Regions from separate parts of the Homo sapiens genome. Here region 2 is linked to region 1. The links come from fine-mapping of genetic effects on gene expression. A gene starts in region 1. The other region holds a variant in brackets. All regions are shown on one strand. Distances are from middle to middle.

Region 1 (4,402 bases):
AAATTGCAAGAAGAGAACAGAATGAATGAAAGTTATTACAGAAAAAAAAATCAAAAGGACCCAACAAAATATATTGGATACAGAATATGAGAGTAGGAAAAATCTTAAATAGCTCTCTGTTTTGAGCCAGCGTAGCTAGGAAAAGTACTGCCATGAGAAATAGGTGACCCCTGACGAGGAGCAGGAAGAAATGAGGAAATCACTTTTAGAAGTGTCTTTGAGGAAATACCATAGGATATTCCTCTGAATATGCCCAGCAGGTAGCTGAACAAATGAAACTAGAGCTCAGGAATGAAATCAAGCTGTGCCACTTTGTTCAAAATCTCTGCATTCTAAAATCCTCCTTCCTGACCACTACCTTCTCTCCTCCATCACTTCCCACTCACGCTGAATCTCCTTACTCAATCTCTAGAGGTCTTAGGTAAGAGTTCTCAAACTGGCAGCCCCCCACGCATTGTATCACCCAAAGAATGTTTCAAAAATTTTCTGAATTAGTTGTCAACATTTAAAAATTGTAAGAGTTCACATAAATTTCAACTTCCAGCTCCTCTTGCAAAATTGGAAATATCTGAGGAAAAAGTGAGCCCATGTTCCCACATGGAAACAATAAGCTGAAGCCGAATAGCAGCTGGCGTTATTAGGGAAGGAGTATGGCTGGTCTCTGGAGACTTCTGAGCGTGGGACCTCCTAGGACCTTTGTTTCTTCCTTTGATCTCCATAGTCCATGAGTCAGATCCCAGCCTCACCTCCCTACCCCAGCCCAGACCCACGTGTATTTTAATCATATCAACATTTAAGGACTACTGTGCACCAGGCACGGAGCCAGAGAAACAAAGTTGAAAAGAAGGCACCCTCTGCCCTCTGTCTACCCTGTCAGCCTCATAACCAGCCACACCAGCATATTCTCAATTCCATGAGCCACATGTGCTTTCCCTGCATCCCAAGGCTTTGCACATGCTGTTCCTTCTGCCCCTACAGCTAAGCCCAAACCCCCTTCTCCTAATCATCCTTCAAGTCTCAAATGATATTTCCTCATGGAGGCCTTCCCAGACTCCCCATTAAGTAGCATACAATCATCCCCTTTCACGTGTTCCATGGCTCTTTCCCCCTTCTTGTACTTTCTCCATGTCTATCTCTAAGACCAGACTTCATCTTGTTCACCAATTAATTTCCAGCATCTAGCATAGCCAGACAAGTACTTCCATAAAACTTTCCATATGTCTCCTAGGCACGTTTTGTTCCAACATGGCTCATCTTGCCAGCTTCCCCCTGCTTCACTTCCTCCACTCTTGTTTCCAAGGTAGAATCGGACAGGCTACTGGGCACTCTCTTCTTAAATTTAAAACAGTTTTAAGCGGGAGGTGCGTGGATCAAATTCAGGATGTTAAAAGATTGTACTGACTGCAGAGTGGAGAAAAAAACAAGAAAAGTGGATGCGAAGAGACCAGTTAGATTACTTCAGTAAATCGCCACTCCAGTTCTAGAACAACTTGGGATTCTACACATCTAACTGCGGTGTTGTGTTACCACATTTCATGGCACTTTCCACGCCTTCACACACACAGCGGCAAACTACCGCGAAACCTCCGGACCCAGCTGCCCTCCACGAGACGCGTTCGGTGATATGCACTCCTCCCCAATGCGAGACTCCGAGACCCCAAACTCCCTCGGACTCTCCCAGTTGGGTCCAGGGCCACACTCGGCGCAGCCAAGCCCGCCCTACCCGAGGTCGCACACGGGCCGCTCCGGGGTCAATGGTTCTTTGGAGGACCAAGAGGACCAAGGCAACAGGGTAATTCATTAGGGGAGGATAGTTAAGAGGGAGCGAAAGGAAGAAGAAATCATGAAATGCAATGCCCGGCCAGGGAACTCCGAACAAGGAACAGGGAACAAGGTTTACCAAGGCGAATCCTGGAACACTCCCACTACAGCTGCCCCCAGCGCTTCAACTACCGGCTTAAATGAACCACGCCCCTTGCGCGACAAAGAAAACGCACTATTCCTGCGACCAGCTGGGGAAGCACCCCGCTACCTTTTACCAGACCAGCCAATGAGTTCAGTGAAACCTTCGATCAAGACAGTCACGCTCCGAGTGGCCAATGAAATTGAAGGCTCTGCCCTCCATGCCCAACTCTGATTGGCTTACAATCCAGGAACAGGCGTTAACCCAGGGAAGGCAGTGGCAAGATGGCGTCCCTGGATCGGGTGAAGGTACTGGTGTTGGGAGACTCAGGTGAGCGGCTTACCCTACCTCTGGGGCTCCAGACACTTTTGAGTTACCCAGTAACCCTCCCCTTAGCTTCCTTCCCTCAACTTCCTGGCTCCTCGGCCCGTGGCTGAAGTCCCTCCCAGGGCCTGAAGACTACACTTCCCAGGGGACTTTGCTCCGTGTGACGACGCGGTGGCGGCGGCGTCGTCGCGCGGGTGGGGGTCGCGGAGCCCGGGTCTTTTGCCTTCGCGGCTTTCCGCATCGGTCTCCCAGGCGACCCCAGCCTAGAGTGTATTGTCAATTCTTTTATTAAAAAAAAAAAAAAAAAAAGCAGGCATTGAGTATTGTATGGGGTTCTATGTTAAGGGTACAGAAGTTAGTAGGACCGTGCCTTCAAGAGATTTTGTTCATTAAGGAAGTCAAACGTGCACTGAGAAACGTGCACTGAGAAACGTGCACTGGCAAGCGCTTCGCATGTATTAACTCATTTAATTCTGAGACAGTCCTGTTATCCCATTTTACAGATGAGAGTAGTGAGGCAGAGAGATGTAAATGACAGAATCCTTTTGAACGCGGAGTCCACGAACTTAAACGCTAAGTTATAATTATGCAGTGACATATTGGGTAGTGGTCCTGTTTTATTCTTAACTGAGCTTAATTTCCTGGTTCTCGTTTGATCTTCATTGAAAACCTATTATGTCCTAGACTGTACAATAGAGAAATTAAAGTAAGAGTTTTATTCTGAAGCAGCTAGGATTTAACGCTGAGCCCAATTTAATCCTAGTGTTAAATATATATATATTTTTTTAATCTCAGTGGATGCAAAAAGAATTCTTTTGACACCTGGGACATTTGAGAACTACAGCTGGCGTCTGGATTTCCAGCTCCCACCTCACTGCCCTTATCTTTTCTTCCATAATCCCCAATTCAGCTCTCCTTAGTAACTTCAATAAATGCTGACCTTGCATTTTATAGAAGCGCTCCTCTGGAGTTGGCCTAAGAGCATGTGTTGTGAGCAAAGACGTTGTGCTAGATGCTTGGAGGTGGAGAGGCTTGAAAACTTAATAGAAACTAAATAAAATTGTGGGCAGCAAATATAGGTTAAGAATGTTTTCACATTGCCCTGAGGATTATTTGCATTATGAAATATTTTACAGAGAGCATTATTTAATATTCCCCTAAGAAAGTTGCCTTTTGAAACTTAATGAACATAATCACAATTTATGTCGACTTCATTTCTATCAGGTAGCTTGAAGTGGTGCCGAAGTTAATTTAATAAAATCACTCAGTTTTACAGATAAAGTAATTGTGGCCTAAAGGGACTTGGCAAGAGTATCACTGAGTAGAATTTACAATCCAGAACTAACAGACTTCTTCATGATACGTTAAGTGGGTGTTTTGTGTCCTTTATAATTCCATTTTCTATTGTATCTAACAATCCCTTCATATTACAAACTGTTGCAACTAGTCAATTTATTTTCTTTCCAACAGGCACTGTATTAGGTTCTGGGGTTATAACTGTGGAATTAATGCGTCATATAACAGGGATAGAATTAGCAGCTACATTAAATGTGGAAAAGTAATCAGGCAATTGATAAGCTTCCCTACTGCCCGCCTCCCCTGTTATGGTTTAGTTGTAAAGCAGAAGACACAGCTGTGATGGCCAGGAAAGTGATTGATGTTGTCACACATTCACTAATGTTAACCTTTATGTGCAAAGTTAGTTATTGTCTTTTTATCTTTTTAAAAGGTAATTTTGTCAGTCTCCTTTTAACTGCGATTTAAAAGTACACAGTCTGACAGTTTAGAATGCACTTTTTACACTTCCTCAGCCTTTCTTTCAAACCCGAAAGTTTATTTTTAAATAAAGGCCATTTCCCTTATAAAATTTTGAGGGTTTCACAAATATATAAAGAAATGACTTAGCCAGACAAGGTGGCTCTAGCCTATAATCCCAGCACTTTGGGAGGTTGAGGCGGGTGGATTGCTTGAGCTCAGTTCAAGACTAGCCTGGGCAACATGGCAAGACCCTCTCTCTACCAAAAACAGTACAGAAAGTTAGCCGGGCATGGTGGTGCACGCCTGTAGTCCCGCTACTCAGGAGGCTGAGGTGAGAAGATCACTTGAGCCCAGGAATTTGAGGCTGCAGTGAGCTAGGATCGTGCCACTGCACTCTAGCCTGGGTGATAGAGT
Region 2 (4,402 bases), 46 kb before region 1:
TCCTTATCGCCATTACTGCAGTTTCCTTCCATTCTATCCTACTTCAAGAAAAAAGCAACAAACAAAACACATTACCCCAACCATCCCCAACCCACCTCCCCACTGGGAAAAAATAAACCAGAAACAAAATCCATTCGTTCCCAAGAACAAAGAGCCTACAAACAAAGTAAAACCTACCTTTCAGGTAGAGGGTGGGGGAGGAGAGGAGGGTGGGCACAGCATTCAGGTAAAAAACTTGTATATGAGGAAAAATGCAAATAATCATTAAGTACAATACATAACGTTATTCGTGTAACTCTAGCACCTGAAGAAGATGCCCTAGACCAGTGCTGTCCAATAGAAATAGAATTTAAGCTACAAATGTGAGCCGTTTATGTAGACTTACATGTTCAGTCATATTAAAAGAAGTAAAAAAAAAAAGGTAAAATTATTTTTAACATTATATTTCTTTAATTCAATTGATTCTATGCTATTCTTTTCAATGTATATTCTATATAAAAAATTAAGATATGTTACATTCTTTCTTCTCATGCTGGGTCTTCAAAATTCAGCATATATTATATATTTATGGCCTACCTCAATTTGGACTAGATACATTTCAAGTGCATGCTAGCAACCAAGCTACCTTATTGAACACTGCAGCCCTAGACAAAGTACTCACTTAATTCCCTTTTCTAAAAACACTAAAGCTAATGGCTACTAGAATTAAAGCCTCTAAACATCTCATTGGCTATGCCCTAGAAGCTATATCCCAGCATCCCCTACTGATGGTCCTGGAGACACAGCCCTAGGTAACATGTTCCACAAATGAACGTAATTAACTGATTAAGAACATAATTAACTGACTTGCCATTCAGGCAGGAACAAAATGATGAGCCCTGGTGGAGAAAAGGCTATGTTCTCCCTAGTGCCAATTCTGTCCATCTATCCATTCAACATTTATTGAGACCCTACTACTTGCCAGAATTAATTCTATATGCCCCCAAGGAGCTTACAGTCTTTTGAGGGGTTGATAGACATAAACAATCAAATAAGAAATAAACAAGTTCATTTCAAATAATTTTTCTATGAAGAAAATAAAACAAAAATATGATAGTGGAAGCGATTCCTTTAGAGAAAGGAGAAGACTGACTTCTGTGAGGTGGTACTGAAGCTGAGAATGAAATAACAGGGACAAGTGCGAAGTATACCACTAGGGCAAAGATCTAAGGCAGGAAAAAGGCTGGCTTATTTGAGAAACACAGAGAATGTCAATATGGTTAGAGAGTAGACTAGCAGATGTAGGTAGCCAGGGGCTAGACCATGTAAAGCCTAGTGAATAGAGTAAGTTTGGATGTTATTCTAAGAAAAATCAATTAAGGGTTTTAAGGGGAGTGAGATAATCTAATTTAGATTTAAAAGATCCCTTTGTGTGTGGGAAATGGTTAAAATGCATGTGTGTGTGAGAGGGGGATAAGCATGGAAGCAGGGAGACCAGTTGGGAGGATGCTGGAGTAGTCAAGGTGAGAGTTCATGTGGCTGGGAGTAGGGTGGAGGTGGTGGAAGCAATGAAGTCAGATTTAGAGTATAGTTTCAATTTATTAGCAAGTCCTGTCACCTCTACTTTCGAAATCAGATTATATTTTGAGTCTAACAGGACTTGCTGGTAAGTTGGATGTGGGATTAAACTATTAAGACTTTTGGCTTGAGCTTGTAAGTAAAATGGTGGTGACATTTACTGAGTCTGGAACAGAAGGAAAACCTGCTTCTCCTCCTATATTTATAATGGTGTTAATGGAATTACTAACCAGCTTGACACCTGAGAATCATCCAAGACACTGCCCTATCCAAACAGTCACCAAATCTCATTAATTTTACCTCCCCAGAGTTTCTTAAATTTGTCCCCACTTTCTCATCCCCACTGACTTGCTCAGGTCTTTTGATCAAATTACTTACCAAGACTATTGAAATGGCCTTAATAATCTCTAGGTTTAAACTCCAATCCAGTATCAATACTACAAATTACTCCTCTGCTTAAAATCATCCAGCAATCTTTTTGAAGAGCAGTTTAGCAGTATATATCAGAGTTTAAAATAGACATGCCCTTTGTTTGGCTATTTCTTTTTTATGATTCTATTCTGTAGAAATACTCGAAGAGAATGAAAATGAGTAATTGATTATAGCATGTAATAGTGAAAAACTGGACACTA[TCTAA/A]ATGCCCGTCAATAAAGGAATTTTTACGTAAACCATTATACAACTATAAAATTCTATTTTGTTTTTTAAAATGAAGATCTAAACATACTGAATGGAAAGCTCTCCAAGATATTTCAAAACCAAATGGCAATGTGTATGATATGATTCCATTTGTGTAAAAAGCACTGTAGTATGTATGTGTGGTTTCTAAAGGCCTAGAAAAGGTCTGGGAGGATACACATTAAACTATCAACAATGATTACCTCAGTGTAGTAAGATAGTGGTGGGCTGGGGAGTTTTCATTTTTTACCATATATATTTCCTATTGAATGAATTTTTAAATAATTAAAACATTAACAAAAAACTGTACAACCATCCTGTATGCCCCAATGATTCAAGGCATTTTCAGACCTGGCACCAGCCTTCTTTCCAGACTAATTGCTCAGACTTATTTACATTAGGTAGGCCATTATGCACTTCTGCATTATGGGAAACGTGGGTTGACTGGTTGACTGTTGAAACTGGATTGTGTACTAGGCCTACCTGCTTTGCAACTAGAATAGGAAAGGCCACCTCTGATACTCAGAAGGTCATGAAGCTCTTTCTGAGGAGAAGCTAAGGTACTTGTTCCTGCCCTGAGGACATGCCAAAATAGGTTCATTCCTTTAGCTCTTCAAAGGAAGAAGTAAAATTTCATAACTCTTTCCCCTTCCCAACCCATTTTTGCATTAGATGTTTTAAAAGTACCTGTACTTATCTTGTTCACTGTTTAGTTTGCTTCTTTTGTAGCAGAAAGAGCCAACAAAATTGACAGTAAATTTACTATAGTGCCAGTTCTTTTCTGGAAATCTTCCTCATTTTTAGATATTAAAAAAAATAAAGTGATAGTAGCTCAGCTCTGCTAGAGATGACATAAAGTAGCTTTAGTGGAAACAAAACAAAGGTGAAATTACACCAATTTCTAAATTCTAAAGATTTTCGTATTTGTTTTTTGATTGTTATTTTCTACTTTTAAACTCAAGAATAAAGAGAATAAGAAAGTACATATGTAAGTCTTTCAATTGTGGTCCTGGCTGGAAACCTAGCCATCAAGCCAACTGCTAGAAAAGAAAATGAACTGTTCTTCCCAAACTTGTTTCCATTCAGTGTCCACTTGTCTCAGATAATACCAACAAGTTATGAAATGAATGAATTATTTCTCCCTCACTCATTCAGATGACTAGAAACGAAGTAACTTGGCAAGATGAGGAAGGAGAAACCAAATTAACTCATGCTTTTGCTGTGCTTTGCTACAACCTCAATTCTAAACCTGCCACCTACATTAATCCCTTAATTAAAATATCCTTCACCTGGTTTGAATTACCCTAGCATATGAGAAGACCAAAAAAGAGCCCAAATAGCCAAAGCAATCCTAAGCAAAAAGAACAAAGCCAGAGGCATCACACTACCCGACTTCAAACTATACTGCGACGCTACAGTAACCAAAATAGCATGGTACTGGTATAAAAACAGACACATAGACTAATGGAACAGAAAATAGGAAACCCAGAAATAAAGCCACACACCTACAATCATCCAATCTTTGACAAAATCAACAAAAACAGGCAATGGAGAAAGGACTCCCTATTCAATATAGTGGTGCTAGGATAACTGGCTAGCCATATGCAGAAGACTGAAACTGGACCCCCTCCTTTCATCATATACAAAAATCAACTGAAGATGAATGAAAGACTTAAATATAAAACCTAAAACTACAAAAACCCTAGAAGAAAACCTAGGAAATACCATTCTGGACATAGGCCCTGGCAAACATTTTATAATGAAGATTCAAAAACAATTGCAATAAAAACAAAAACTGACAAATGGGACCTAATTAAACTTAAGAGCTTCTGCACAGCGAATGAAACTATCAATAGAGTAAACAACCTACAGAACAGGAGAAAATATTTGCAAAGTGCATTCAACAAAGGTCTAATATCCAGAATCGATAAGGAACTTAAATCAACAAGCAAAAAATAAACAACTCCATTTAAAAAATGGGCAAAAAAATATAAACAGACATTTCTCAAAAGAAGACATACATGTGGCCAACAAGCATACGAAAAAATGTTCAGTCTCACTAATCATTAGAGAAATGCAAATCGAAACCACAATGAGACATCTCACACTAGTCAGAATGGCTATTATTAAAAAGTCAAAAAATAGCAGATGCTGGCAAGGTTGCAGAGAA

Evidence for each region. PIP is the estimated chance that this variant, and not a neighbour inherited with it, causes the effect.
Region 2: its variant is the best candidate, but not a certain one, in a credible set for the expression of GTF2E1 in whole blood (INTERVAL, PIP 0.63).

The regions. Positions count from the first base shown.
Region 1 is chr3:120,740,293-120,744,694 of GRCh38, reverse strand. GTF2E1 (general transcription factor IIE subunit 1) reads right to left here and starts at 1,951. Exons shown (of 5, transcript NM_005513.3): 1 at 1,901-1,951. RABL3 (RAB, member of RAS oncogene family like 3) reads left to right here and starts at 2,179. Exons shown (of 8, transcript NM_173825.5): 1 at 2,179-2,233. The coding sequence starts at 2,188. RefSeq lists enhancers at 1,899-2,018, 1,899-2,193, 1,641-2,279, 2,159-2,448, 2,280-2,918.
Region 2 is chr3:120,786,050-120,790,451 of GRCh38, reverse strand. No RefSeq gene overlaps it. Among named protein-coding and RNA genes, the nearest start is that of GTF2E1, 46 kb to the right of the region's middle. The variant TCTAA/A (reference allele first, on the strand shown) is at 2,190.